Regions from separate parts of the Homo sapiens genome. Here region 2 is linked to region 1. A link means that fine-mapping ties the variant in region 1 to the plasma level of a protein whose gene starts in the linked region. Region 1 holds a variant in brackets. A gene starts in the other region. All regions are shown on their forward strands. Region 1 has its middle 8.0 kb from the start of NID1. Region 2 holds the start of ADGRF5 (adhesion G protein-coupled receptor F5).

Evidence for each region. PIP is the chance, under the fine-mapping model, that this variant and not a neighbour inherited with it causes the effect. The UK Biobank Pharma Proteomics Project read protein levels with antibody pairs (Olink). The fine-mapping took linkage between variants from a reference panel, not from the people measured, so its PIPs are less certain.
Region 2: ADGRF5 starts here. The variant in region 1 is fine-mapped to the plasma level of the ADGRF5 protein (UK Biobank, PIP above 0.99).

Annotation. Positions count from the first base shown.
Region 1 is chr1:236,065,191-236,080,932 of GRCh38, forward strand. No RefSeq gene overlaps it. Among named protein-coding and RNA genes, the nearest start is that of NID1, 8.0 kb to the left of the region's middle. RefSeq lists a silencer at 1-160. The variant G/A (reference allele first, on the strand shown) is at 1,827.
Region 2 is chr6:46,915,065-46,930,806 of GRCh38, forward strand. ADGRF5 (adhesion G protein-coupled receptor F5) reads right to left here and starts at 6,874. Exons shown (of 21, transcript NM_001098518.2): 1 at 6,649-6,874. It overlaps LOC105375080 (a long non-coding RNA gene), which reads left to right and starts at 7,015. Exons shown (of 3, transcript XR_001744147.2): 1 at 7,015-7,371. RefSeq lists an enhancer at 11,312-12,511.

The DNA.
Region 1 (15,742 bases):
ACCCCGGGAAATAGGGGAGGGGAGCGGAGGGGAGAGCGGAGGGCCCCGCCCCGTCCAGCGGGCGCGCCGCGGGGCAGCCCAATGGCCGCGAGGGGGAGGGCGAGGGGCGAAGCCGAACCTCCCGCCTTGGGCGCCGGTGCCTGCGATTCTCGAAACCAGCCCGACTCCCAGCGAACGGCGCCTCCGGGAGGGGGAGCAGAGCGCGGGACCCGCACCGTGGTCCTCTGATTAGGGTTGGGTCGTGGAGAGCCGGCGACGTGGAAACGCTCCGGATTCAGGAACGGCGCCCACCCCATTGCCGCTCGGCCGCGTCCGGGGTCCAATTCGCTTGACCCTGGTAGGAAGACGGGGTGGGAGCTGGGAATCAGCCAAGGGACAGAGCCACCAACACGTTCATGGGCTCATCCACCCATTCATTGCGCGTTTTTTGAGTGCCTGATCCTGTGCTCCCTATTGTGGAGGTTCGCCAGGAAACGGGGTCTCACCCTCCGAGGCAAAGTCACCAGTGTACAACACAAGCCAGTGTCAGATGGGGGCCCCAAGTCATCAAAGACATTAGGGCTGGAAAAACTGGCGGGGAAAGCTGCAGGTGGGACGGCGGGAATCAACCCGGGTGCTCTGGAAGGAATGGGATGTCATCAGGCGGCAGAGAAGGGAGGTGGAGGACCGAGCTGGGTTTATTCAGGGCACCATCCCCCAGCAGAGGATGTGGGGAGGGACCGGTTGAAGTACAGCCTTGAATCACAAATTTAGGAATTTGAATTCGCTCTGTCACTCGGAGAAGAAACTATTGAAAGTTCTTGACAAAGGGAGATAAGCGATTTAAGTGGTATCCTGAATAATCGGTTGATCGTTACTTTGGCACTAGGGTGAAAGTAGAGACAGGTAAGTTATTAGAGGACCAAGTCTAAAACATTGAAATGAAAGAAGGAGCAAATCCTGATTATAAGATTGGCATTGAAGAGGAGAAGAAACGAAGTTAAAATTGAGTTCAAGGGTTTGCACTTGGAGGACTGGAAAACCAGTACTGCCTTTTGACGTCAGGGAAGAGGATCTGGGACAGCTGGAGTTGGATATGTTTGATGTCAGACCTATCAGCGGTCAACAGGACGTCCCCGTTTCCTGTCAGCAGCTAAAAGTAACGACCTTGAACCTAGTTTATAATAATTTTTCAGAAAACAGCAAATTCTGTATAAAATTTAGGGGGCATGAGTTCTGAACCAGCAAAGACAGGAAGAAAAAGCAAAGGAAACATGCCTTCTAAGCAAAACACTTTTGATTTACTCATGAGAACTTGTCTTTTTCTTTTGAATTCATTCGCCATCAGAAATAACATTTATTACCCATCAGAGACAGCATGTGTTCTACAAGTATTCATTCATTTTGCACTCACAGTAACCCTAGGAAACAGACCTTCCCTGTTTTACAGAGAAGGGGCATAGAGGCCCAGAGAGGTTAAGTCATGTTGCTAAGGTCATGCAGCTGGGAGCCGGTAAGTGACCCTAGGTGTTCCAGCTGCAAGGACCCCACTTATAACCACTGCATTAAGTGCCCTCTGTTTACTACCTTTTACTGCAGCCTGCAGTCTGTTGTCAAATATGGTGCTTTTCCTTCAGTTCCCTCCCAACAATACAGCACTGTGAGCCCCCAGCCTGCTCCCCAGAAGCACTTCTGACTCTACTCTATGCCATCTGTGTTTCTGACTATTTCTGGGCTTCTGGGCCCCAGCACTGCCTGTTTCAGCTGCTACAGGATCTCTGTATGGAGATTCTTCTCTATCTTCACCCGCACGTGACACGGGCCCCACGACTTCCCCATGCCCTGTG[G/A]TTGAGGGAAACCCCAAGCTCAGTAGGCCTTTTTTGGCCTGTGCCTTCAACACTCCTCCTTCAAAAAACCCCACCCCAGCCTCTGTCACACATCAGAGCTGTCTCTGAAGCTGTAGTCTGTGCCTGGAATGCTCTTACCCTTCTCACGAATTCTCTCCCTTTTTGGTACTCAGGCAGCTTCTGAAACTCCTATTGGTCCATCCATGGGACTTTCCTCAGCAACTACAGGAGGAGAGCAGTTCTCTACTTTGCTGGTTCAGCACAGCCTGAATCCAACCTGGCTGAGGTCAAGGCTCTCCATTTACTGGCTGTATAAGCACGGGCAGGTTTCTAAGCTTCAATATCCTTGTCACTTGTATGGGATGTTCATAGTTAAAATCGAAGGATTGTCGTGAGGATTAGATAAGGTGATTCATTAAATGCTCCTAGCTGGGCACAAAGTAAGTATTCCGTTAATATCAAACCATCGTTGTTACCTAAATGTACAGTTTTCGTGATTCTTATTATGTCAATATTTACTGAGAATCTACCATGAGCCAGATTCTATACTAGAAATTCAAAATGCCAAGACCGTTAAGGCACAGTCCTTTCTTTGAGAAGCTCACAATCTATCAGGGAGACAAACACAACAATAACAGTGCGATGCTTTAAGAAATACACAAACCAACAAGAGATATCGCTTGTTGAATGCTGCTTCTGCTAGATGCTTAATGTAGCATTCAATTTAATACTAATAACTGCACAAGCTAGTAGCCCTATGTAGTGAAAACAAGGTTTGCAATGATTAGATAACTTGCCCAGTTTTACACAGGTAGTGAAAGAGCTAGGATTTGAATCCAGTTTGTCCGACACCAAAGCTATTATTCTTTCTGCCGCGCCATCCTGCCCATCTATGGAAGGAAAGGTTTCTCCCTTTATTTCCACCCACAAGATCTATTTGCTCCATTGTTTATACATAATGCTCACGATCTATCTGTGCATGCTTGTGCTCCTTTATTTCATCAGTATCTCTTGGCCTGAGTAAGTCCAGTATATACGGTAAATTCTCTGTCATTTACTATTTATAGCCCTGCACTCGCCTCACATTGCCCAGTCCTTGTAGGACGTAATATTGATGCTGTGTCTCCTACTAGGACAGTGTGTCCCTGTCACTCCTTTAGAATTAGTAGTTCCAAACACATTCATCATCGAATACTTACTTTTATATTGTGCTCTGGACATTTTCTAAGTGTATATAATAATTCGGTCTTTTTCTCTAGTCATTTCGTATGTTTTTCGGGGATAAGAGCTCATTGGGGGCAAGGCCCATGTGCTTTATTTGTTTTCCTGACTTCGCAGAGCCTAGCCCAATGCTGCATACACATTAATAATGTGCACAGTTCTTAACCATTTAAGAACTCACTGATATGTTTAAGAATCATCTGATATCTGCAGTACCAATGGTACCCATAATTCTGTAATATACCAGCTTTAAAAAAAAATGAAACCTTGCTCTTTTGAGATTTATACTCTTTTCTTGATGGCTGTCATCCTGATGAGGCAGAAACACAAAATTTAAGAAGCAGGTCTCAGGCTGTGTGTCTATAAGAAGCCACGGTAACTTTTCTTTTTTTGTGTGTTTGATTTTTGAGATGGAGTCTCCCTCAGTCACCCAGGCTGGAGTGCGGTGGCGTGATCTCGGCTCACTGCCACCTCCACCTCCCAGTTTCAGGTGATTCTCCTGCCTCAGTCTCCTGAGTAGCTGGGATTACAGGCATGCCACCACGCCCGACTAATTTTTGTATTTCTAGTAGAGATGGGATTTCATCATGTTGGCCAGGCTGGTCTCGAAGTCCTGACCTCAGGTGATCCTCCTGCCTCAGCCTCCCAAAGTGCTGGGATTACAGTTGTGAGCCACCACACCCGGCCCCAAGGTAACTCTTCTCTCTGACGATTCAGACAAAAGTCCAGGCAGCTGAGTGGGAAAATAGCTCAATTGGCTATTGCTCTGAAGGAGGCATTTGTTCTAATCTCACTCTCCTGTGAGGATTGGTAACTGACCATGTATGGCCATGGAGCTTTCTTTTATTTTCCAGATGTCATATAGATGTGAATGTATTAGTGTTCCAATTCCAGGGAATTCGCCTAATTCATGAATTTTTTTTTTAATTTTATTTGAGACGGAGTCTCGCTCTGTTGCCCAGCGTGGAGTGCACTGGCGCGATCTCGGCTCACTGCAAACTCCGCCTCCTGGGTTCACGCCATTCTCCTGCCTCAGCCTACCGAGTAGCTGGGACTACAGGCGCCCGCCACCACGCCCGGCCAATTTTTTTTTTTTTTTTTTTTTTTTTTTTTTGTATTTTTAGTAGAGACGGGGTTTCACCATGTTAGCCAGGATGGTCTTGATATCCTGACCTCGTGATCCGCCCACCTCGGCCTCCCAAAGTGCTGCAATTACAGTCGTGAGCCACCGAGCCCGGCCAATTCATGAGTATTTTAAACAACCCACACTCAATTGTGATCTCAGATAAAAATGACACCCTTGGCCGGGGGCGGTGGCTCAAGCCTGTAATCCCAGCACTTTGGGAGGCCGAGGCGGGCGGATCACGAGGTCATGTGATCGAGATCATCCTGGCTAACACGGTGAAACCCCGCCTCTACTAAAAAAATACAAAAAATTAGCCAGGCGTGGTGGCGGGCGCCTGTAGTCCCAGCTACTCGGGAGGCTGAGGCAGGAGAATGGCATGAACCCGGGAGGCGGAGCTTGCAGTGAGCCTAGATCGCGCCACTGAACTCCAACCTGGGCGACAGAGCGAGACTCTGTCTCAAAAAACAAAACAAAACAAAACAAAACAAAAAAACACTCTGACAAAGGATGAGAGTGAAGCAGGATTTGGTGTTCACTTTATTCTGTTTTCAAAGGCGATTAGGATAAAAAGTACCTTGGGAAAACACAATTATGTCCACCTATGTTTGGGAAGATGCCAAGCTTTTCAGGGTAAAGTTTAATTCCTATAGTTCTACATCCTGTTTTCCCATGAACGTTTTCCTGGTTCATTATCATCAGACCTCCAGCATTCACTGCTGGGGTTCCACTTGCCTTTTGTTGTTATTTTAATTTTTAATCTTGATTTATGTAATTTTCAACCTTACATAAAAATTGCAAAAATAATACAAAACGATTCCATATACCCTTATATTCCCATATCCCATATACTCAGATTTTCCTTAATATTAACATTTTGCCATGTTTGCTTTCTCTCTGTCTTTCTCTCTCTCTGTCTGTCTCTCTCTCCACACACTCACACATGCATGCACACACACACAGACACATCGATACATATATATATACATAAATTTTTATCTGGACCATTGAGGGTAAGTTGCAAACATGATACCTCTTTACCTCTGAATGCTTAAGTATATGCTTCTTTAAAACTAGAACATTCTCTCACCTAGCCATAACACAATTGCCAAAATAAGGAAATTAACATTGATATCATACTATAATCTAATTGACAGCTCTTATTCAGAGTTCACCAGATGTCAATATAATGTCTTTTAATAGCAAAAGAAAATACCAGATTACAAACTGCATTCAGTTGTCATGCACTTTCAGTCTTCTTCAACTTGAAAGAGTTCCTCAGTCATTCCTGATCTTTCATGACCTTAACTTTTTTTTTAGAGATGAGATCTAGCTATGCCGAGGCTGGAGTGCAGTGGCTATTCACAGATGTGATCACAGCATGCTATAGCCTCAAACTCCTGGACTCAAATGATCCTCTCACCATAGCCTCTCTAGTAGCTGGACTACAGGGACAAGCCATTGAGCCTGGCCCTTGACATTTTTTAAGAGGACAGACCAGTTATTTTGTAGGCTGTCCCTCAGTTTGGGTTTGTCTGGTGTTTCCTTCATAATTAGATCAGATTTTGCATAAATTTTGGCAGCAGTAACAGAGAAGTGATATTGTGTCCTTCCTAGTGCAACATATCAGGAGGAACATGTCCATTTGTCCTAATGCTGATAGTGTTTACTTTGATCACCTGGTACATTTATACCTCCTAATTTCTCCACTGTAAAATTACTAGGTTTTCTTTTCTAATTAATAAATATATTGGAAACAGATAATTGGAAACTACATAAATATTCTCTTTCATTAAACTTTTACCCTCTAATTTTAACCCCATTAATGACTCTTACTAGAATCAATTGTTATTGTAATGGTTGCAAATATTTTTCTCTCTTCAGTTACTGAAAAAGAATTTTATTTGGTAAACTACACATACATAATATCTCCCATCTTAACCATTTTTAAGTGTAGAGTTCAATCGTATTACATTCAATGTATCAAATGGTAGTACATTCATACTGTTTTGCAACCATCACCATCATCCATCTCTAGAACTCTTTTCATCTCACAAAACTGAAACTCTGTACCCATTAAACAATACTTCCCATCCCTCCCTCCCTCAGCCTCTGGCGACCACCATTCCACTTTCCATCTCTAAGAATTTAACTACTCTAGATGTTATATTAATGGAATAAGACACTATTTGTCTTTTTGTGACTGGCTTATTTCACTTTGCATAATGTCCTCAAGGTTCATCCATATTGTAGCATGTGTCAGAATTTCCTCCCTTTTTTAGGTTGAATAATATTTCATTGCATAGGCTGGGTGTTGTGGCTCACATCTGTAATCTCAGCATTTTGGCAGGCCAAGGCAGGTGGAGCCTAGGAGTTTGAGACCAGCCTGGGCAACATGGTGAAACCCCATCTCTACAAAAAATACAAAAATACAAAATTTACAAAATACAAAAATTAGCCAGGCATGGTGGTGTGCACCTGTAGTCTCAGCTACTGGGGAGGATGAGGTGGGAGGATCGCTTGAGCCTGGAAGGTCAAGGCTGCAGTGAGCTGTGATCATGCCACTGCACTCCAGCCTGGGTAACAGAGTGAGATCCTGTCTCAAAAAAGAAAAAATAAATAAATAATTGTATGTATGTAGTGCCTCATTTTGCTTATCCGTTAATCTGTGTGTGGACATATGTGTTGCTTTCATGTTTGGCTATTGTGAATAATGCCGCTTTAAACATGTATGGACAAATATTTCTTCAAGACCCTGTTCACAATTCTTTTGGGTGTATACCCAGAAGGGAAATTGCTAGATCATGCGGTAATTCTATTTTTAATTTTTTGAGGAACTGCCATACTGTTTTCCGTGGCAGCTGTACCATTTTACATTCCCACCACCAGTGTACAAGCATTCTAGTTTCTCTACGTACTTTGACAACACTTACTATTTTATATTTTTTAATAGTAGCCATCTAATGGGTATGAGGTGATATCTTATTGTGGTTTTGATTTGCATCTCTCTAATGATTGGGGATATTGAGCATCTTTTCAAGGGCTTATTGGCCATTCATACATCTTGTTTGGAGATATGTCTATTCACGTCTTTGTTCATTTTCAATCAGGTTGTTTGGTGTTTTTGGCAGTGGTGGTCATTTTTAAAGTTTTCAATTTGAAAAATTTCAGGCTGGCACGGTGGCTGATGCCTGTAATCCCAGCACTTTGGGAGGCCGAGGAGGACGGATCACCTGAGGTCAGGAGTTCGAGACCAGGCTGGCCAACATGGCAAAACCCCGTCTTTACTTAAATACGAACATTAGTCAGGCGTGGTGGCATGCATCTGTAATCCCAGCTACTTGGGAGACTGAGGCAGGAGGATCACTTGAACCCAGGAGGCGGAGGTTGCAGTGAACCGAGATCGTGCCACTGCACCACAGCCTGGGCAACAGAGTAAGACTCCATCTCAAAAAAAAAAAAAAAAAAAAAAGGTGTGGTGCACGGTGGCTCACACCTGTAATCCCTGCATTTTGGGAGGCCGAGGTGGGCGGATCACAAGGTCAGGAGTTCAAGACCAGCCTGGCCAATGTAGTGAAATCCCGCCCCTACAAAAAATACAAAAAAAATTAGCCAGGCATGTTGGCAGGCACCTGTAGTCCCAGCTACTTGGGAGGCTGAGGCAGGAGAATCGCTTGAACCCGGGAGGCGGAGGTTGCAGTGAGCCAAGATTGCGCCACTGCACTCCAGCCTAGGTGACACAGCAAGACTCTGTCAAAAAAAAAAAAAAGAAAGAAAGAAAGAAAAAAAAAAGAAAGGAAAGAAAAAGAAAGAAAGAAAAGAAAGAAAGAAAGAAAGAAAAGAAAGAATTGATTTCAAACCCTCAGAAAATTTGGTGAAAAAAAAAAATACATCCAAATGCACCAATTACTGGACATAGAGGTTCAGGCCTATACTCCCAGCATTTTGGGAGGCAGAGACAGGAGGATCACTTGAGGTCAGGAGTTCAAGGCCAGCTTGAATAACATAGTGGTACCCGTCTCTACAAAAAAAACAAAAAAAAATTTGCTTTAATTAGCCACGGGTGGTGGCATGTGCCTTGAGTCCCAGCTACTTGGGAGGCTGAGGCAGGAGATCACTTGGGCTCAGGAGTTTGAGGCTGCAGTGAGCTCTGACTGTGCTACTGCACTTTAGCCTGGGCATGAGAGTGAGACTCTGTCTCAAAAATCAAATGAAAACCAAATGCACCAATTGTTAACATTTTGCCATATTTGCTTTACCTCTTTGAACCTCTCTGTATGTTCTTATTGTTATTTGCATAATCATTTGAGTCAGTTGCAGATATCATGACCCTTCATGCCTAAATACTTGTACATAGGCCTCCTAAGAACAAAGACTCTCTTTATAACCACAGTGTACTAATCGTACGTAGCAAACACAATTCTATTGTCTAAATATACAATCTGTATTCAAATTTTACCAGTTGTTCCAATAACCTTTTTAGTTATATTTTTAAAAAATGATCCTCTAACCCAAGATCATGCATTGCATTTTGTGATTTTCTTTCTTTCTTTCTTTCTTTCTTTTTTTCTTTCTTTCTTTCTTTCTTTTTCCTTCCTTCCTTTCTTTTTTCCTTTTTTGAGACGGAATCTTGCTCTGTCTCCCAGGCTGGAGTGCAATGGTGTGATCTTAGCTCACTGCCATGTCCACCTCCCAGGTTCAAGGGATTCTCCTGCCTCAGCCTCCCAAGTAGCTGGGATTACAGGTGTGCACCACCATGCCTGGCTAATTTTTGTATTTTTAGTAGAAATGGGGTTTCGCCATGTTGGCCAGGATGGTCTCGAACTCCTGACCATGTGATCTGCCCGCCTCAGCCTCCCAAAGTGCTGGGATTACAGGCGTGAGCCGCTGCACCTGGCCTGTCCTGTCTCTTTATTCTTGGTTAAATTGGAATAGTTTCTTGGCCTTTCTTTCTTGTTCATGTTATTGACATTTGTTAAAACAGGCCAGTTGTTCTGTGGATTTCTCAATTCAGGTGTGTCTAATTGTTCTCTTATAATTAGATCAGGGTTATGCAATCTGGCAGGAATGCTACAAAACTCACGGGGTGTCCTTCTCAGCGCATCTCATCAGGAGATCCATGATGCCACTGTGTCCCGTTACTGCTGCAGTTAATGTTGATTGATTGATTCGAGTGATATCTGCCAGGTTTCTTTACGTGACTCTTTTAAAAAGTAAATTTACTTAGTAATATTTCCTTAAATTCCAAAATTATTACTATTATTACCAACAAAGGCATTATCTTTCATATTCTTAGAGTTTTAAAGCATCTACATATTATTTAATTCCATTTTGGAATAATGGAATTTTTAATTCTGTTGATATCAAATTTTAAGTTGATATCCATTTTCTCCTAAATATTTTCTCTCCAAAATCATTTTTGAAACAGCATTTTTATAACTATGCTATATCCCAGGACAATATTACAAGAAGGTATTAGGAGGTTAATCTTTTTGTTTGTTTGTTTTGAGATGGAATTTCGCTCTTGCTGCCAGGCTGAAGTGCAATGGCGCAATCTCAGCTCACCACAACCTCCACGGTTCAAGTTCCGCGGTTGAACTCCCAGGTTCAAGCGATTCTCCTGCCTCAGCCTCCCAAATAGCGGGGATTACAGACATGCGCCACCACCCTCAGCTAATTTTGTATTTTTAGTAGAGACAGGTTTCTCCATATTGGTCAGGCTGGTCTTGAACTCCTCACCTCAGGGTGATCCTCCCACCTCGGCCTCCCAAAGTGCTGGGGTTACAGGTGTGAGCCACCTTGCCCAGCCAGGAGGTTAATCTTAAAAGCATATATTTATGGCTTCTCAGTACCTGTTGTTAATTGTCTTATTCTAACAATGCACTCCCATAGGTTAATTGGATCAGTCTTAATAACCCATACTGACCATTTATTCATCAATTAATATTTATTGAGACCTCACTATGTACCTGGCACAGTGCTAGACATTAAAGGCACACCTAAGAACAAAATATGGTCACTGTTCTCTTGAAGATTACATTCTTATGGGGAAAGACAGACACTAAAGGAATGAATAAGCAATTATATAATGTGTCAGATGGAGATAAAGAAAAGTGCCATAGAAAAAAATTAATTCACGTAAGAACTTACAGAGTGGAGGCTGGGCACGGTGGCTCACGCCTGTAATCCCAGCACTTTGGGAGGCCAAGGCGGGCAGATCACCTGAGGTCAGGAGTTCGAGATCAGCCTGGCCAACATGGCGAAACCCAGTCTCTACTAAAAAATGCAAAAATTAGCCAGGCGTGGTGGTGGGCACCTGTAATCCCAGCTACTTGAAGGCTGAGACAGTAGAATCGCTTGAACCCGGGAGGCGGAGGTTGCAGTAAGCCGAGATCACACTATCGCACTCCAGCCTGGCTGACATAGTAAGACTCTGTCTCAAAAAAAAAAAAAATAAAAAAAGCTTACATTATAGAGTGATGTGGTTGGGTGTGAGAGGTGCAATTTTATTTTGGTATATCAGGAAAGTTCTCTATAATCTCTTCAATACCTTTGGGGCAGAGTCCTAAGAAGTGAGGGAGTGAACCGACTGGGTAGGTTAAGGGAACAGCTGAGGCCGCATTTGGTCCTGGGGACCACAGGTGCAAAGTTCTTGAGCACGAGTGAGCTGCCAAAGGTTGGCAAGAGAGCCAGGTGGGTGGAGCAGGGTAAGTGAGAGATAGACCCCTTGGCCCCACAGGCCATAGTAAGGACTTTGGACAGCATCTGAAAATAGTTCAATGGGCAATAGCAAAAGCAGAAAGAATCAGCCAAATTTACAGAATACGTATTTTCATGAGTTAGTTAAATTGCTGCCTTTGGTTATGGAAAACATTGAAGATAGTACAAACCTAGCAAAAGACAGCCAAGAAAGAATTCCAGTGCAAGACTAAATGAGATATTATCATTGGAAAGGTAGAAAGAAAAATCGCAAAATGCTATTGTCTTCTCATTGAACTTAAGTACAGTAACCTATAATCTACTGCTTGTTCTAAAAATGCAGATTTGTTCCACCTGGATGACATACAGGCATACCTCAGAGATATTGCAGACTCAGTTCCAGACCAGTGCAATAAAGCAAATATAGCAATCAAGTGAAATTACACAAATGTTTTGGTTTCCCAGTGCATATCAAAGTTATGTTTAGCTGTAAAATCTCTGGAAGAAAACCTAAGTAATACCATCCTGGACATAGGAGCAAGCAAAGATTTAATGACAAAGATAGCAAAAGCAATCACAACAAAAGCAAAAATTGACAAATGGGATCTAATTAAACTTAAGAGCTTCTGCACAGCAAAAGAAACTATCAACAGACTAAACAGACAACCTACAGAATGGGAGAAAATATTGGCAAACTACACATCTGACAAAAGTCTAATATCCAGCATCTATAAGGAACTTAAACAAATTTACAAGACAGGCTGGGCACGGTGGCTCATGCCTGTAATTTCAGCACTTTGGGAAGCTGAGGTGGGCAGATCACCTGAGGTGAGGAGTTCAAGACCAGCCTGGGTAACATGGAGAAACCCTGTCTCTACTAAAAATACGAAAATTAGCCAGGTGCAATGGCATGCACCTGTAATCCCAGCTACTCAGGAGGCTGAGGCAAGAGAATCGCTTGAACCTGAGAGGCAGAGGTTGCAGTGAGCCATGATTGTGCCACTACATTCAAGCCTGGGGGACAGAGTGAGAGCCCATTTCAAAACACACACACACACACACACACACACATTTATAAGACAAAAACAAACTACCCCATTAAAAAGTGGGCAAAGAACATGAAAAGACACTTTTCAAAAGAAGACATATGGGCCGGGCGCGGTGGCTCATGCCTGTAATCCCAGCACTTTGAGAGGCCAAGGTGGGTGGATCACCTGAGGTCGGGAGTTCAAGATCAGCCTGACCAACATGGAGAAACCCGTCTCTATTAAAAATACAAAAATTAGCCAGGCATGGTGGTGCATGCCTGTAATCCCAGCTATTTGGGAGGCTGAGGCAGGAGAATTGCCTGAACCCAGGAGGCGGAGATTGCAGTGAACCAAGATCGTGTCATTGCTCTCCAGTCTGGGCAACAAGTGTGAAACTCTGTCTCAAAAAAAAAAAAAAAAAAAAAAAGAAGGCCAGGCGCGGTGGCTCATGCCTGTAATCCCAGCACTTTGGGAGGCCAAGGCGGGTGGATCACGAGGTCAGGAGATCGAGACTATCCTGGCTAACACAGTGAAACCCCGTCTCTACTAAAAATACAAAAAAATTAGCCGGGCGTGGTGGCGGGTGCCTGTAGTCCCAGCTACTCTGGAGGCTGAGGCAGGAGAATGGCATGAACCCGGGAGGCAGAGCTTGCAGTGAGCCGAGATCCCACCACTGCACTCTAGCCTGGGTGACAAAGTGAGACTCCATCTCAAAAAAAAAAAAAAAAAAAAAAAAGACATACATGTGGCCAACGATCATAAAGAAAAAATCTCAACATCACTGATCATTACAGAAATGGAAATCAAAGCCACAATGAGATACCATCTCACACCCGTCAGAATGGCCATCATTAAAGTCAAAAAATAACAGATGCTGGCAAGGTTGAAGAGAAAAGGGAACATTTATACTCCGTTGGTGGGAATCTAAATTAGTTCAACCATTGTGGAAAGCAGTATGGCGATTCCTCAAAGAGCTAAAAGCAGAACTACCGTTCAACCCAGCAATCCCATTACTGGGTATATACCCAGGGGAATATAAACCATCCTACCATAAAGACACATGCACGTGAACGTTCATAGCAGCATGATTCGCAATAGCAAAGTCATGGAATCAACCTAAATGCCCATCAATGACAGATAGGATAAAGAAAATATGGTACATATACACCAAGGAATACTATACAGCCATAAAAAAGAACAAGATCATGTCTTTTGCAGGAACATAGATGGAGCTGGAGACTATTATCCTTAGCAAACTAACACAGGAACAGAAAACCAAATACTGCATGTTCTCATTTATAAGTAGGAGCTAAATGATGAGAACTCATGGACACAAAGAGGGGAATAACAGACACAGGGGCCTACCTGAGGGTGGAGGGTGGGAGGAGGGAGAGGAGCAGAAAAAATAACTATTGGATACTGGGCTAAGTACATAAGTGATGAAATAATCTGTACAACAACCCCCCATGACACGAGTTTACCTATATAACAAACCTGCACATGTACTCCTGAACCTAAAATAAACATTTTTTTTTAAAGTTATGTTTAGGCTGGGCGTGGTGGCTCAAGCTTGTAATCCCAACACTTTGGGAGGCCAAGGCGGGTGGATCACCTGAGGTCAGAAGTTCAAAACCAGCCTGGCCAACAGGCCAAACCCGGTCTCTACTAAAAATACAAAAATTAGCCTGGTGTGGTGGCGCACGCCTGTAGTCCCAGCTACTTGGGAAGCTGAGGCAGGAGAATCACTTGAACCTGAGAGGAGGAGGTTGTAGTGAGATTGAGCCACTGCACTCCAGCCTGGGTGATAGAGCAAGACCCTGTCTCAAAAAAAAAAAAAAAGAAAAGAAAAAAAAAGTTATATTTAGCTGGGCCTGGTGGGTCACACCCGTAATCCCAGCACTTTGTGGGGATCAAGGTGAGAGGCTAGCTTGAGGCCAGGAGTTTGAGACCAGCCTGGGCAACAAAGTAGGACCCTATCTTTACAAAAGAAAAAAAGAGTCATGTTTATACTATACTGTAGTCTATTAAGTGCAATAGCATTATGTCTGAAATAACTATGTACATACCAAAAATACTTCATTGTCAAAAAATGCTGACACAGAAACATGAAGTGTGCGCACACTGTTGGAAAAATGGCAACAATAGACTTGCTCAATGCAGGGACATCATAAGCCTTCAGTTTGTAAAATACACTGTATCTGTGCAGTGCTATAAAGTGAATCTTAAAAAAACAAGATGTGCCTTTATCAGGGAATAAATTGCATAATGTGAATGTCGCACTTTCTCATGTGAGATTTTGTCTTTGAAAAACACTGGATGAACAAACACAGAATACTGCACCCGGGTGAACTGAGCTGCATTGGGGTGCACAAAGCGACACATGGGCCACCCTGGCCAGGACAATGAGCCACCCCCACCCCCACCTGGGGTCCCAACTTTCCACACCGAATTTCAGGTGCTGCTCCTTCCACCCCTTCACAGTAACTCACAAGTAGCCACCTTTCCAAAGGCCGCTGGGCTGTGTGGTCCTAAACTCGCCTTCTCTTTAATTTTCCCTTCTTCCTTCTCAGCCTACTTTACGTATTTCCTCTCTGTTCTCTTTCTTTTCCTCCCCTTTTTTCTCTCTATCTTTTGCTCTCTTCCTCTTTTACACAGGTGGTGGGCCTGGGAGCCAGCCGGTGAGTGGGCAAGAGTGTAGGTGAACACCCTGCATGGGAACTTCAGGTCTTTTGCGAGCTGATGTGCTGTCATTGTTGTATTTTATATGCATTTCTTAACCATGGAACATGTATGAAACTGTGCTGCCATTTTTATTAGGTTCCAAGGTTGTTAACGTCACTAATGAAGTTTTCGAGTATTCTACTCCTAACCTGGTTTTCCTGGTAAGCCCTGTGGTTTTATTGCTGCAGTGATTTTTAGGAACGCCTGTTGCAATCCCCAGAACCTATCACATTTCAGTAATAGATATCAGCACAGCCACAGTAATCATCAGTTTTCATTAGGCCCACCTGTTTCTCCCTGGCATCATTTAAGTTAGGAAGAAAGTGATCTGCCAGTACTGGCCAGGTGTGGTTGCTCACGCCTGTAATCCCAGCACTTTGGTGAGGCTGAAGCAGGCAGATCGCTTGAGCTCAGGAGTTCAAGACCAGCCTGGGCAATATAGCGAAACCCCGTCTCTACCAAAAATACAAAAATTAGCTGGGCATGGTGGCGCACTCCTGTGGTCCCAGCTACTCAGGAGGCTGGAGTGAGAGGATCAATTGTGACCTGGAAGTTGAGGCTGCGAGCCGACATCATGCCACTGCACTCCAGCCTGGGTGACAGAGTGAGACCCTGTCTCAAAAATAAATAAATAAGAAGGAAAGAGGTCTTCCAGTGCCATCCTTGAGAAGACTGGCATCTAGGCCACAGGGACTGAGGGCTGCTGGCCACTTCATGGTGGGACTAGCTTTGCCTCCCTGCAGAAAGCCAGGGATGCCCCCGCCAGGCCCTTCTCAAAGCATCACTTGCTGCACATCTCCTGAGCCGCCACTTGCTCTCAGGAGCCCTTGGCTTCTTGCACACTAAAAACCACACACCGTCATCCATTTAGGCGGCAAAAGTTACCTTCTGACAGCAAATGCTGAGCCAGGGGATGCCCTAGAAAGCAGGGTAACTGGAAGGCCACACGTGGAAACGAGGAAGTCAGGTTGTGCAGGTTCATTTGGGGCAGATTCAACAGAGCACTGAACATCCAGAGGAGTTTAAGGTGGGGATGGAGTCTTGCTACATTGCCCAGGCTGGTCTCAAACTCCTGGCCTCAAACCATCCCCCTGCCTCAGCCTCCCAAAGTGCTGGGATTACAG
Region 2 (15,742 bases), not on the chromosome of region 1:
AGGCTGGTCTTGAACTCCTGACCTCAAGTGATCCGCCCATCTCGGCCTCCCAAAGTGCTGGGATTATAGACGTGAGCCACTGCACCCGGCCCAGTTTGTTCTATACTCAAATGTTATGTGAGAAAACTTGGCAAAGCTCATTTTACATTAGGTTGTTCTCAAGCTTCACAGTTCTGTGGTTCTACCATGTGTTAGGTAAGCTCCAAAATAATACTTGACTATTTTAATAATAATAATAATAATAATAATAATGGACCAATCAGAACAATCTCTGTCCACTGTGCAGGAGCAGGGCCTGGGGGTCTCCTGCTGGGCTAGACCTTAGCAGTGTCATTGCTGGATTGTAGGGAAGTCTGTGTAGGATCCCAGGAAAGGGACTGGATGACTAAAGAAGAGGTGGGGAGGCACTCCAGGGGCTGGAGGAAGCAGTTATTTGCAATGTGGCTTAAAATATTCCAACATTACAGTAATTGGCAGGGCCACCTTAGCCTTCTGCACTTCCTCCCTTTATGGCCCCCATCCATTCCATCTCTCTGAGAAATGGCTTTGCTGTCCTTAGCCAATGACTTCTCTTCTAAATCTTCATTTCCTTCTTCAGGGATTTTGTTAGATTTTAACCATATAATGTGTGTGCTATTCAGAATGAAAAAAAAAATATTACTTTATCCCCCCACCCCCAACCCCAAGAAATACAGTACCCTGAAAAGTCCTTGCTAGTTCAAGATTTCCTTACTCTGGACAGTTTGACTTTAGTCCTCACCTCATTATGAAAAGTATTCTGTAGAGGCAAACCCACAACATTTGCCCCAGTCCTCACTCTCCCTGGCTTGCGGTGGGTACCTGCTCCATTTGTGCATGGCCTCCTCCTCTGCAGCGCTCCCTTTCCCTTTCCCTTTCCTGGTTCTCAAGGCTCCCGAGCTTATGCCTTTTCTCCTTCTATGCTCCCATCCTCATCATCCTGCAGCTGCCTCACTGTGCGCCCTGCCAAATACCTCTCCTGGGTCTACAGCTCTTCTCTCTTGACACCTTCTTATAGTAAGCTCATCCACTTCCATAGTTTTAATTGTCAGTTTATGTGAGAATTCCCAGAACTGTATTTCCAGCCTCTGACCTTTATGGCATATTGCCTCTTTTCTTGTCCCCAAAGATATCTCTTTCCTCTGCATGCCTATTTCCTCTCTTTGCTACATATTAGGCATGGCTTTTCAACTATACTCTTTCCACTTGAGTGTAAATTCAGATCATCGAAAACTGAACTTGTCTCCTGTCCCACTGCTCTCTCCTAACCCATCCCTTCCCAGATGTGCCAACTGCTGGCTTCATTGTTTCCTAGGCTCACAGCTTCACAGGTGTCCTTGGACACAAGAAGTGGTGCAGGAGCAGAAGCAGCAATTCGACCGGGTACTAAGTCCTGTTACCTGCTGCTGATGTGCTCAGAGCCCCTCATCGGTTTGGATATTGTCATCTCACCACACTTTTTTGGACATTGGGCCACTACATTGGTTGGGACATTATCATCTTACATCTAGATGGTCTCAATAATCTCCTGAATGGGCCCCTCGCTCCTTTCTTCCCTGACCAATAATCCAACACAACAGCAGGGAATTTATTTGCCCAGAGCACTATTCTTCCTAAATTGTGGCTAGATCATATTTAAATACTTTAAATGTTTGCAAATGCCCAGAGAATATTTAAGCCAATTCACCAGGCAAGCATGATCACCACGACCTAATGTAAAATGAGCTCTGTCAATTTTTCTCCCATAACACTTGAGTATAGAGCAAACTGACCCACTCCCAGCTTTTATTGTACCTTCTTTTGTCATAAATATTAAGAGACAATATTAGTGGAATGCATTGCTACCTTGCAGCTTCTTCTCGCGCTATTCTTGGTAACTGAAATGCTCTATTTCTCCTTTCTGAGCTTTACTCATTATTTCAGGTCTTGCTTATTCATTTGGTAACAACAATTACTATAATTTATCAAGCACTTGCTGTGTGTCAGACACTTGCCATATGGCAAGCATTAGGTTAAGCACTATACATGCACTAGACTCATTTAATCTTTATAATCCTGTTTATGAGAAGTATCATCATCTTCATTTTACAGATGAAGAAACTGAGCCTTGGCTAAACAAACACACTTGGCAAGTGGCCAAGTTTGTCTCCAAAGTCTGAACTCTGACCTTTATGGCATATTGTCTCTTATTTTGTCTTCCCCAGAGATATATCTTTCCACTGCATGAACCGCATTTCTCTCCTCAGCTACTCATCTGGTCCTGCCATGTGGATCACTTTTCAGCACTGTGTGTTTTTCAGGCATAGCACGGTAATTAGGCATATGGACTCTGAAGTCAGACTGCCTGAGATGGAATCTTAACGTGCCTCTATTTGCTAGCTTTTTGTCTCAAGTGATTTACTTAACTTTTCTGGATCCCCCATCTATAAAATGGGGATTATGATTTTATTTGAGGCATAGGATTATTGGAACAACTAAATGGGTTAACAATCATGTTTATAAAACACTGAGTATGGTCCCTGGCACATAGCAAATACTCGATAAATATTGTTTGTTATTTCTCCTAATGCTATCCCTCCCCTAACCCTCACCCGCCCCCCACAGGCCCCTGTGTGTGATGCTCCCCACCCTGTGTCCATGTGTTCTCATTGTTCAACTCCCACTTATGAGTGAGAACATGCAGTGTTTGGTTTTCTCTTAGAAATACCTAATGTAAATGAGGAATTGATGGGCACAGCAAACAAACATGGCACATGTATACCTATGTAACAAACCTGCACCTTGTGCACATGTACCCCAGAACTTCAAGTATAATAATTAAAACAAATTCAATCAAAAAAATTGTTTGTTATTAAAATTCTCAATGCCTGTAACTTGCTTTCCACTAAGAGTCTGAGCTGATTAAGAGAAAGGTTCTTTGCCTTTGCAATTCCACAGCACTTAGCAAGTCACTCCAGAGTAGGTGATTCTACTAGGCTGTAATTTTAAAGATTTCACGTTGGCGATTACCTTTTAGGAAGCCGGGAAGATTCCAGTTATTTTAACCATCATGACCAGAGTCACACCATGTGATTTGAAATGTTGAGCTGGTAAGTAACTTGTGAATCATGGTGTGCCCTTAGCTAATATGTATATTTAACTCAACCATCCTTATTAGAGCACCTACTCTGTGCAGAAACTCGTAGGTCCTGGGGAAACTGAGATAAATACTGAACAGGCCCGGTAGTCCTCTCTATCAAGGAGACAAACATTGCACTGACGAGAGATACTAACTTGAACTATATCAAGAAATGTCAGTGGGGAAAAGGCTGTAGGGAAACGTTATAATTAAAAAACATCCATGACTTATCATCTATTCATATTTAGTTCAACCCAGAAAGTGGCAGCTCATGCAAAGGATAATCAGTATTTCTTTTTTTCCCCTTTCTCTTGGGATTGGGACACAACATGGCAAAGTGACCTTGAATAAAAAGTATGATCTGATAGTCATCTGGCATTAGAAGAGCACATCCTGTTTATCTAGAACATTTAATCTGCCTTTGTAAAATCTGCAAGTCTTAGGGAGCCAACATATCTACAGTGAAGTCAGTGGGGTTGTTCCAATTAAAACTGGAAAGTCAATGCCATTGTTGGAGGTGTCGGAAATCTCCTCTTCATTCTGATGTGCAGATGTGTCTGTTCCTCCGAAAGACAGCAGCAGCCAGAATTCTAATGATCTGCACTGCTGCTGACACTTTTGGTCCTAATTTCTTGGCTTCATAAACAGCCATTGCTTCTGCTTCTCAGTTTAGCCACTGTATCTTACACAGCCAAGACTCAGTGAATCTCAACCCCAGCTGCATTATAGAATCACTTTGGAGATTAAAAACAACAAACAAACAAAAAATCTAACCATGCCCTGGCCCCATCCTCAGAGATAGTGATTCAGTTTCTCTGGCAAAGTGTCTAGACATTGTTTTCTCTTTGTTAAGTTCCTAGGGTGACGCCGATGGACAGCAGGTGATAGAACTTGCTAATATCTGGACAAAGCAATAGTTTAGTCTAACTTTAGATTCCCAGCAAACATCTACCATGTGGCTACAAAGCTGACAGAATCCAGCCAATCGCATCAATTCTCTATTCCACATGACTTTTATCCTCATAGTACTGACATAAAAAAAATGGGGCTGCAAAGACAGTAATCTGAGTTTCTTCTCATCTCAGTCCTCCAAAAAAATTCATTGTGCCATTGAGGCAAATAAATTAACCTCTGAACTTCCTGTTTTTGTATTCCATTAGATGAGAATAAGTTACCTGCTTTACCTGTGACATGGTGAAAGAAGAGGCATAAAAGTCTTTTGATAACTAAAAAGTTGCATATAAATACAAGAGATTGAATGCATAATATTTAGGAGGAGACAGATTAGCCTCATTAACGTGAGGAGGTGGGACCCCATGGGATATTTTTAACTGCTCCAAAATGCCCCCAAGTACCCCATAGCGCAGTAAGTGAGGTTACTATATCATAGTCAATAAACCCACACTCAGTAAGTGAGGCAGTGTTAGTCTACAGGGCCTCAGTGGAGGTCTCTCATGTGGCTAACACTGTGCACTTGGAAGAAATGATTCATCGGAGTAGCCAGAGATCTGGAGAAGGGACAAAGGCAGGCAAATTTTACAGAACGTCCAAAATCAGCAAGGCCTAGTGGCTCTATAGTTTGGGGTGGAGAAACCCTGTAAAGAACAAGAAAATATGAAATAGCTATTGAAAGTGTTCGTATTATTCTTGGGTTTGATACTGCTTATTTATACCTTTTTCCCAAAGGCTCTCTCCATAAGCTGTATTAACTTGTTCATAGTGATGTTTTCCTTATTTGCTTGTCTCTTAACATTGTTGGTGGGGAGGGGAAGGCCACCTTTTTACAGAAGACTAAAAGAGATGGAAAATGAACCGATCTGTTAAATGCATTTATTATCCACTGAATAAAAGGGCAATCTCTCCTGTCTTCACTCTACGTTCTCTGGGCCACTTTATCTATCAATCTAGCTATTATCTATCTAGTTAATTTCCTGTTATTTTATCTTCTCCCCTTTCATTTCTAGAATAAGAAACTTCTGATGCCCTTCAAGGGAAAAGCCCAAACCACTAATTGGCAAATCTAGAATTTAATCCTTAGGAGGTTGTTACTAATATTATTAATTGTCAAAGCCAAAACCAACACAAAATAGTAATGGTAAAAATGAGTAAAACTCTTTATACTTTTCTAAGAGTTAAAAGAGCTATTCATGTTTCCCATGTATCATTTTATCTTTCACTGAGAGGAAGGAGTTTAGGATAAATCACAAGAACTTGACAATGAGAATTTATTGTACTCCTGTGCCCCGGCTTGTCCTATAGAGCTCAGAAGAACAGAAAATAAAGCCTTTAACTGGTAACACAGAAAACAATTGATAGAATAATATTTGGGGGGGGGGAAGAGAGTGTATATTGGGGGTGCAATTGAAAACTGTTAACAGAAAGCTGGCTGCGATGGCTGACACCCGTAATTCCAGCATTTTGGGAGGCCGAGGCAGGTGGATCACCTGAGGTCAGGAGTTCGAGACCAACCTGGCTAACATGGTGAAACCCCATCTCTACTAAAAATACAAAAATTAGCAGGGTGTGGTGGCGGGTGCCTGTAATCCCAGCTGCTTGGGAGGTTGAGGCAGGAGGATCGTTTGAACCCGGGAGGCAGAGGTTGTAGTGAACCAAGATCGTGCCACTGCACTCCAACCTGGGCGACAGAGCAAGACTCCATCTCAAAAAAATAAAAATAAAAATAAAATCTATTTAGAGATATTCTTTTACGATAAGAATATAGTCAAGTATTATCTGTGTAATTCAAAAATAACCTACATTGAAAAACCAACTACGTTAGCCCTTTATGAAAGAAAAAATGCTGTAGTGAAGTGGCATGACCTGGCTTTCTGAAATATGAGAAAACATGGTTTAAGCAAACCGCACATCATAGAGTTGCTCCTTTCAAAACAAGTCGGCCTGGCCCTGAAGCCCCAGCACTTTTACTGACCTCCTTCCTAATGCTGACTACAAACTCCTTTCCCCTCAGTCCTGTGTGGGAGGCTGCAGCCTACATTTTACATTTCTAAGGTCATCCCTTGTCCTTTGGAAGGACTCTCCCGAAGCTGAGCGAATAGCCAGGGCTCCCTCCTCCTGCTACTGGGATGCAGCCTCTTCCTTCCTCAGCCTGACCACAGCAATGGCCGACTGGCCCTGAAATGCTCTTGGCAAGAGCAGCAGCTCAGTAGCTCATGAATGCACTGGTTTTTATAGTATTTTCTGGTTTAAGGACGAGAGAACTTGTTTGAAAAAAAAAAAGTCTGTTATTAAGAAAATCCTAAAGGATCCCAGCTAGTTGCTTGATACGCCATCTCCTTTAATATAGTCTCATTAACTGGACCAACAGTATGCACAATGCTCTTGACTGGACATACTTAACTTTCCCAACATACATATCACACCTACGCAAAAGAAAAGCAGGCAAAGAGGATCGTAAGTGGAAGATGTCTTAAGAGAAGTGACTTAGGAGCCCCTGAGGTCTTGCTACAAAGGGAGACAGAATGACAGACCGCAGTAGGAGAAATGTCTGTTACCTGTCCAGCACTGTGGTCCCCCGGCTGGCTCCCGCTCTGATCAGATGCCTAAAAGCTTCCCAGTTTCCACTATGGGGCCATTTGTCCTGGGCCTCCTGGGCAGGGGCTCTCACGCCCAGTGGAGGGAGAACCAAGCAAGACTCATTTCGCGTTTTCAGGCAGGACTGGCAGCACCGCTCCCACGCTCAGCCTCCCCCAGCTATGATCCTCCCAGTCTCACAGAGTCATCCCTGAGAGCCGCGCTGCTGTTTTAAAAACAAAAAGTGATTTCCTGGTCCTCTTCCCCGGATGGCGTGTGCGATTTCCCTCACGCCCATGGGAAGTCCTTCAGATCCTTCTTATCTGGAAACCTCTCCACCAAGTGGACAGACTTGTTTGGCCAATGCCCCTAGTTCTCACTTTTCTTTCTCCAAAGAAAAAAATCAGAAAAGCAAAACCAGAGCAAACCAAACATAGGTTAGAGCTAATGAGAAGTACAGGATGTCTGGTTTCAACTTTTAAAAGATGACCACTAAATTAGATTGTAACTTCAGAGAGGAAGGAAAATTAAGACTATCGATGAATTCTTTGTCTTTAGCAGTGCCAAGAAAGCAGAGAAAAAAAGAATCCGCAGAAGAGAAGAGACCTAGAGAAGTTGCTTAGTCCTCCCCCGCGGGAGGGCTGTACCTCAAAAATGCCATATTGGAGGGACGTCCAGTTCTCCTAGGTTTCCAGGGAAACTCTGTGAGTATTTGTGTATCAAACTATAAATTTAGTGGTACTTAAAATACCGCTCAATAGCATGGATATTTAAAGATAAGGAGATATATGGTAAAGGCCTGGTTGGCAGGCTGCATCCAGGTTGCTGGGTTTAAAGATGAATTATAGTCAGCTCATTTTTGAACTGGAAGTGACCTCACTGATCCTCATTTTACAAAAGAGGAAACTGAGGCCCAAGGAGAACCCTTCCCAAGGTCAGAACACGGATGGGGAATGCTGTTTGACTCTCTACTCTGGAGCTCTGCCCACAGAAAGTTTGATGAATGAGGCCTGGCTTGGAATCGGCATTGGAAATAAGTGCTTCGGGTGAGTCCCATGCAGGTAGTCCCAAGAGTATCTTCAGGGAATTCCTCATAGTGTCAAAGAAAGGACTCTGGAGTCAGACTGTAGGAACTGATGCTTTAGTCCCACCAATTATATGTGGCCGGGTACACATTACTTGACCCTATTGAGATTCAGTGTTGTTTTGTTTTTAGACGGAGTCTCGCTCTGTCTCCCAGGCTAGAGTCCAGTGGCGCGATCTTGGCTCACTGCAACCTCTGCCTCCTGGGTTCAAGCGATTCTCCTGCCTCAGCTTTCCCAGTAGCTGGGACTGTAGGTGCCTACCAGCACATCTGGCTAATTTTTGTATTTTTAATAGAGACAGGGTCTCTCCATGTTGGCCAGGCTGGTCTCAAACTCCTGACCTCAGGTAATCCCCAGCCTCGGCCTCCCAAAGTGCTGGGATTACAGGCGTGAGCCACTGCTCCTGGCCCTGAGATTCAGTTTTATTGTGTGTGAAAGTGGGATAATAATAGTACTGAGTTTATAGACTCTGCTGAAACTGAAGAGGAAGAGTTTAGTAACTGTTTGTTGTTCTCTGGAGCCCTGGGCTCCAATGCCTCCAAGTTCATCCTCTCTCCCCTCCAGCTGCCTTCCCTTCTTGTCATGCTATCAGCCTGTAGCAAGTCAGCAACCACCAGCAGGACTTAGGCTTGAGACCAGAGTATTTGGGCAAGAAGAGGATGAACTCCAAAATGTTATTATTCCACTTCTAGATAATGATTCTCAACTGTAGTCTACACGTTAGATTGGATACACCCTAACTTAAAAAGAGCCTGCTGAGGGATGCAGTTCCTGGGCAAATGCTGCCTTTTTTCCTGCTCGTATTTTGGTTGTTGGGTGCAGCAGGCTGTCTAACATGGAATGGGCGTTGTCAAAGTGGCTGTCCCTTTCCTTCCCTGAGGAGCAATTCTTCTCGCCCACAGTTCCCTGCTTGTTGTTAGGAACACTATGTGCTTGCTGCACACACATTACAATGAAAACAAAAGCAAATAAAAAATGCAACCACCATATGGCCTCAGCGGCAACCCAGAATGAACTGTGGATGGAGAGACCCTGCCCTGTCGTAGCTACGGCTGGAATTGACTGTCACAGCAGCCGTTTTCTTGAATTCTAAAACGTTGGTGTTGGTGGCTGAACCCAAATTTCTTGAACCCAACTGCAAACGTAGAGAGAATAATTTACCAGTCATGTTATCACTTTGTTAATATGAAATGTCTCTCATGGCTGTAAGGTACAGTCTCATTAGAGACAAAGCTCCTACTTTCTCAGGAAGAAATTTCAGCACCAAATAAATACATATTTTCCAGCATGTTCCCAGCTGTTTCACTTCTGCCCTTCTTTCACTCTGCCCTTCTCCTTTCTTCACACAGGTAACGTTTAGTCTCTTTTTAAGTTCCAGGTGTTATTTCTTCCAAGGACCCTCCTATTTCTCCCAGCCTGAGCCAAGTATTTCTTCTCCCTGATCCCACACTGCCAGATGCATGTCTTTTTGAAGTTACCACACTGCATTCAAACAATCCATCTAATGCATTGACTGTAAGCACCTTGAAGGCAGGCACTAGTCTTATTTATGTTATGCCCAGCTCGTATTACAGTGCTGGTATATAATGGGTTATCAATAAAAGCAAGCAAAATTAAACTCTGCATTTCATTTTCCATTGCTGGTTCTTCCTCTTAACGTAAGAGTGTCTCATAGCTCAGTCTTTGAAACCCTTCTCTGTTGACACTTATTTCCCAGGTGATCTCTACTAGTTTTGGCTTAAATCTTTGTGCTGATGACTTCCAAATGTCTATCTCTATCATAGACCTCTCACCTGAATTCCTGACCCACGTATTCAACTGCTTACTTGATATCTCCTTTCAGTTGTTCAATAGGCCCTCAAACAGAACATGTCCCAAACTAAACTCCTGATCATCCCTCCCAAACTAGCTATACCATCAGTCTCTCCCATATTAGCAAAGGGCATCTCCATCCTTCCAGTTACCCAGATCAAAACCCTAAGAGTTATCCTTGAGTCCTACCTTGCACACTTTACATTTAATTTGTCATCAAATCTTGTTAGCTCTATTTTCAAAATATATGCATAGTCTGGCACTTCTTCCCCTTCTGCTGCTATCATTCTCATCCAAGCCATCACTATCTCTTGACTGGATAATCACCAGTGTCTTATCTGTCTCTGTGCATCTCCTCTTGTCACTTATAGTCTGTTCTGAAGACTGCAGTTAAAATGGTCCTTATAAAATACAAGTTATATAAAGTCCACACGTGCTCAACTCATCTCCCGTAGTCAGAGCACAGGTCTTTTCAACAGCCAGTGAGACCTTCATGATCTGCACCACCTTCTCTCCCCATCATTCATGTTGCTCCAGGCACACTGGCCTCCTTGCAGACCAGGCAGTCTTGCATTTCAGGGTCTTCACACTTGCTGTTCTCTCTGCCTGCCAGGGATGCTCTTTGCACAGATTTCCTCAAGACTCACTCCATCACCTCATTCTCACTTTTGCCCTAACATTGCTTTCTTAGTGAGGCCTTCATTGACAGCCATATCTTACATTTCATCACTCCACATCCCCCCTACTTGCTTTAGTTTTCCATATCATCTCTGGTACACTATAATACACTTTTAAATTTTGCTGGAGTCTCCACCTTGCATCCCTGGACTAGAAGGTAAGCTCCTAAGTCGAGTGCAGTGGCTCATGCCTGTAATCCCAGCACTTTGGGAGGCCAAGACAGGTGGATTACTTGAGGTCAGGAGTTCGAAACCAGCTGGCCAACATGGCGAAACCCTGTCTCTACTAAAAAATACAAAAATTAGCAGGGCGTGTTGGCAGGTGCCTGTAATCCCAGCTACTCAGGAGGCTGAGGAAGGAGAATTGCTTGAACCTGAGAGGCAGAGGTTGCTGTGAGCCAAGATTGCGCCATTGCATTCCAGCCTGAGTGACAACAGCAAAACTCTGTTGCCTGCTTAACTGACTCATTGCAGAGGAATATTTGAAAGTGTAACACACAAGCAAAATTATTAACGCCACAGCCCTGGCCAGCATAGCTAAAGTACATAATAGTTCAACTTGTGAAATTCTCCTACCTTCATATCTTGGCAGGGTAAGCCCTGCTTTTTTTTATTTTCTTTTATTTTTTAAGCCATAACCAGACGTTGGTAACCCTTTTGACCCAAGGTCAGCTCTCTTTTGGTATTTCTATATTGAGGCCAAGAAAATTCTCCTTTGGCACTGATCTGTCCTTATACAAGGAAGGAACTGGCAAATAATCGGGCAGTTTCATAGTATACAAATGGTCTTATTCTTATCTTGGGTGTGTATATTTTGGCAGAGCCTCCACTAATGGAATTGGTCATATCTGTGCTTAGCTGCAGCCACTCAGATTTTGTTTGCACTTACTGCTACTGCACCCATTCCACCAATAGACAGTGTTATTACACCTTCTTTGTGTATGCTTCTCTCAGACATTGATGTTGTTTTGCCCTGGAAGATTGCAAAGCTTCCATTTTTTGAGCCAACTGGACACAGTTGACAGCTCCCTTCCAGCACTTGTTATGACTCCAGTGATGCCCCAGCTTCTGCCAGAAATCCAAGTCACCCTCCAAGTAGGACCCTTTTCTGGATTCTACTCTTAGCACTACCCCCTCTGCCATCTCCTAGAAGAGGGAGAGACAGCATCTCGGGTGAGGGGGGGGGCAGTGCAGATTTGAGGTATGGTTCGTTGAGGTGTCATCCACACTTCTTTCTTGACCCTTATTGATCTATCCTCGGGGAGCGCTGACCACCAATGGCCTGTGAGCCGTCCACAGCCTTCACATTCCACTTTCAGCTCTTAGAGATGACATGCTGTCTATGTAGCAGGAAGTCACTTCTGATGCCCATGGTATGAAATACGTCACCCACATGCCTCAGCTGTGATGCACATAATTTCAGAATCATCGACTTGTCATTGACTCTTCCTCCCTCAGTCCCCTCCAACCCAGTCCCATGGAGAAGAGCAGGTATTTGAGGACATGGCATTCCTTCTTGTCTTGGCCTAGGAGGGAATCTATTTAGAAGGAAGCTACACTTTTCCTCTCAATGTACACATGTCATTTTGTCCATGAACACTGGGCAGTCACTCCTGTTTTAACCTCTACTTCTTTACGTACATCCTGGGTGCGGGCACTCTCCAATGGCGGATACCATATACTGCAGTAACAGCGAGGCTGATCTGCAAACATCAGGCAGAATCCTGGTTTGGGACTGCAAAGCCCTGTCCTCACAATACCATCTCCCATCCAAATTCCATCATTCTATGCTATTTTCAGTGCTTCAACATTTCCTTTGACTCCCAAAAAAGTTTCCCTCATTTTTACCTCTGATTGTAGAGATAATTTCCTCAGAATTTATCAAGGCGATTAGTGAACAGTCATAATGCCAAAACCACTAGACAAATATGTACTGAAGAGTCATCCATGCCAGGAGAAAATCAGAATAAAAAAATGTTAGAGCAAAGGGCGGCGGGGGTGGGTGGAGGGGGGTGGGCAGAGCTAGTGATCATTTGTTCCAACTATTTAGTATTAAAGTTGAAAGGCTTAACCAAGGTCACAAGCAGCGTTAGTGTCAGAGCCAGACTTAGAATTCAGATCTTGTGTCTCTGCATCCCGTGCTGTTACCTTATGCTCTGGTGAACCCCCAGCCCCCACCAACACATGCATTCCCATCCCCAATTTTCTGGTAGGAGAAATAATGGTTGTAAGTAGAATAAGGACACATAGAGGTAAACTCCTGTTACACCTCTGTACTGACGAGAAGAATAAAAACTCTGTCAACATTTATCCTCTCTTTATTTATTAAATCCAGATAACACATCTGACGCAAGCCAGCAACAGAATTTCCTTGTTAACATCATTATCACAGAAGTAGACCAGCACCAGTTAGGCAGTCTCTTTTCCATCCACAACCCCCAAGTCCCACCCACTTACCTAGGTACCAGCTTTCATAGAGTACTCAGAACAGCATCATAATAGGCGATAAAGGCCTGAAACCTCCTTCTCAGACAACACCCACAAACAAAGCTTTGCCATCAACAAGTCAACAAGCAAGCTTTATTGCAGAAGTTTCTCCACGTTGTACTTCCCCAGGCTAGAATTAAGCTCACATCATGCCAAATAGCTGTATTGCCCTCTTGAGACAGACGCATAGGCTATGCTCTGGCTAAAATGCTTCAATTTGATTCTTACCTGACTCTAACCAGGGAAATACTGAAAAGTGGGGTGACAACCACAGGAACATTTGAGGGGACAGAATAACTGACCCAAGTCAGATTGGGTTCCAGACGAAGCATAACCCAAATGCCTGCTGTGAATCCTGGTCTATCAAAATTCTAGATAAAATTGCTTTTCTCCAGCTTGTGGAAGTTCAGAGCCCACCTCAGGGTGCCTGGGAATTCCTAAGGATGTTTATATTCTCCTGGCCTGGTCAACCCATAGAACTGCCACATTCCTAGTATGTTGTGTCTGTGTGGCTCTAGGTTGGTGCAAAAGAAAAACAGCCCCTTTTTTGAATTTCACCACACACCCAGTAAATGTGAACCTAAAGTTTGGGGGTAAAGGAGTGACTAAAGTCATATTTACAACCAGAAAAATAACCAAGTTGTGACTGGAAGGGTGGATGTTACTATTTTATTGGGATATTCTGACCACCTCTTCACTGAGCGCTCCATAGACTCCCACCTTCTCTAGTGCCAGCTTCCCACCATCTTGCTGACCTCTCTTCCCTTCTTCCCTGTAATCTCCACTCTTCTCTCATTGGCTCCTCTATCTATGGGGATAACAAACATATTCCACCCCTCACTTTATGCATGAGGCCCTCTACTCTCTTAGAGGTCTGAGTCTCAATTGCTTTCTAGGTGCCTATCACACTATTTTTCTAAAGACGGTTTCTTCCCAAGGAGGACTAAAATGCTCACCATCACTGGCCATCAGAGAAATGCAAATCAAAACCACAATGAGATACCATCTCACACCAGTTAGAATGGCAATCATTAAAAAGTCAGGAAACAACAGGTGCTGGAGAGGATGTGGAGAAATAGGAACACTTTTACACTGTTGCTGGGACTGTAAACTAGTTCAACCATTGTGGATGTCAGTGTGGCGATTCCTCAGGGATCTAGAACTAGAAATACCATTTGACCCAGCCATCCCATTACTGGGTATATACCCAAAGTATTATAAATCATGCTGCTATAAAGACACATGCACACGTAAGTTTATTGCGGCACTATTCACAATAGCAAAGACTTGGAACCAACCCAAATGTCCAACAATGATAGACTGGATTAAGAAAATGTGGCACATATACACCATGGAATACTATGCAGCCATAAAAAAGGATGAGTTCATGTCCTTTGTAGGGACATGGATGAAGCTGGAAACGGTCATTCTCAGCAAACTATCGCAAGGACAAAAAACCAAACACCTCATGTTCTCACTCATAGGTGAGAATTGAACAATGAGAACACATGGACACAGGAAGGGGAACATCACACACCGGGGACTGTTGTGGGGTCGGGGGAGAGGGGAGGGATAGCATTAGGAGATATACCTAATGCTAAATTACGAGTTAATGGGTGTAGCACACCAACATGACACATGTATACATACATAACAAACCTGCACGTTGTGCACATGTACCCTAAAACTTAAAGTATAATAATAATAAAATAAAAATAAAAATAAAAAAAAGAAAGTAAAAAGATGAAAAAAAAAAAAAGATATCCCTTTCTCTTACCCCTATATTGGGACAATTTCACAGGTACAGGTGGGGTAGTTATCCATATACCTAATGTCTAAGATGAAGTAGTGATTTCTGAGCAGAGAAAGAGGCAATATGAAACTTGTGTTAAACTTGTTTAACGATGTTTGGCTTTTCCTTATGATGTCTGGCTCATGACTTAGAGCAAGAAATGGCATTCTAAATAAATTAGCTCAATGTTTCCAGGGCCTATATTCTTCTTATTATTTTTATTTTGTTATTATTATTTATTATTGTTATTTTTTGAGATAGTGTTTCACTCTTGTTGCCCAGGCTGGACACAGCAGCACGATCTTGGGTCAGTGCAACCTCCACTTCCCGGGATCAAGCAATTCTCCTGTCTCAGCCTACCGAGTAGCTGGGATTACAGGCACTCACCACCATGCCCAGCTAATTTTTGTATTTTTAGTGGAGATGGGGTTTCACTATGTTGACCAGGCTGGTCTCGAACTCCTGACCTCAGGTGATCCACCCGCCTCAGCCTCCCAAAGTGCTGGGATTACAGGCGTGAGCCACCGCGCCCAGCCTCCAGGGCCTATATTCTTTCATGGAAGAATGTTAAGTGGTTCTTTTTAACATATTAGAATACAGTTTTTAATTAAAAGTGTAGCGAATGGCACCACAGTATGAAAAATAAGATGCCAGGTGACATCAGAAGTATAAACTGTCACTTCTGTAGCAGGATTTGGGAAGCAACGGGAAAACCTGTTTATCTGTACCTCATTCCTAAAATTACACTTTTGGAGACAAATTGCTTTAAGTGAAGAAACTGCCCCTACTCTGACTCAGGTATCTTTGAAATGTTTACATATTGTTCATTTCCATTTCCAGTGAGTTCCATATTAGTGTGAACTAATTTAAACCAGCAGTTAAAGATTTAACACGGATGACAGTAGAGATAACAGGAGGACAATGAGGGTAGAAAGAAGTGGGAAATGGTGTGGGGATGGTATTTCCGAGAGCAGTTATTTATGGGCTGGCATGCAGCTTGCATGTAAAAATCATTCTGCCAATTATCAGTGGAATTGCTGTAGCCACATAAACTGGCAATCCTATTATTTATGTTAGTTTTCTCACTCCTTGAAATGGCCATTTCACACCTTCTCTTCTCTCCTCAGTCTTAGCAGTATCCTTGCCTCATATTTCACTGGAAAACAGTCAATTAAATGAAACATTTGGCTGGGTGCGGCAGCTCACGCCTGTAATCCCAACA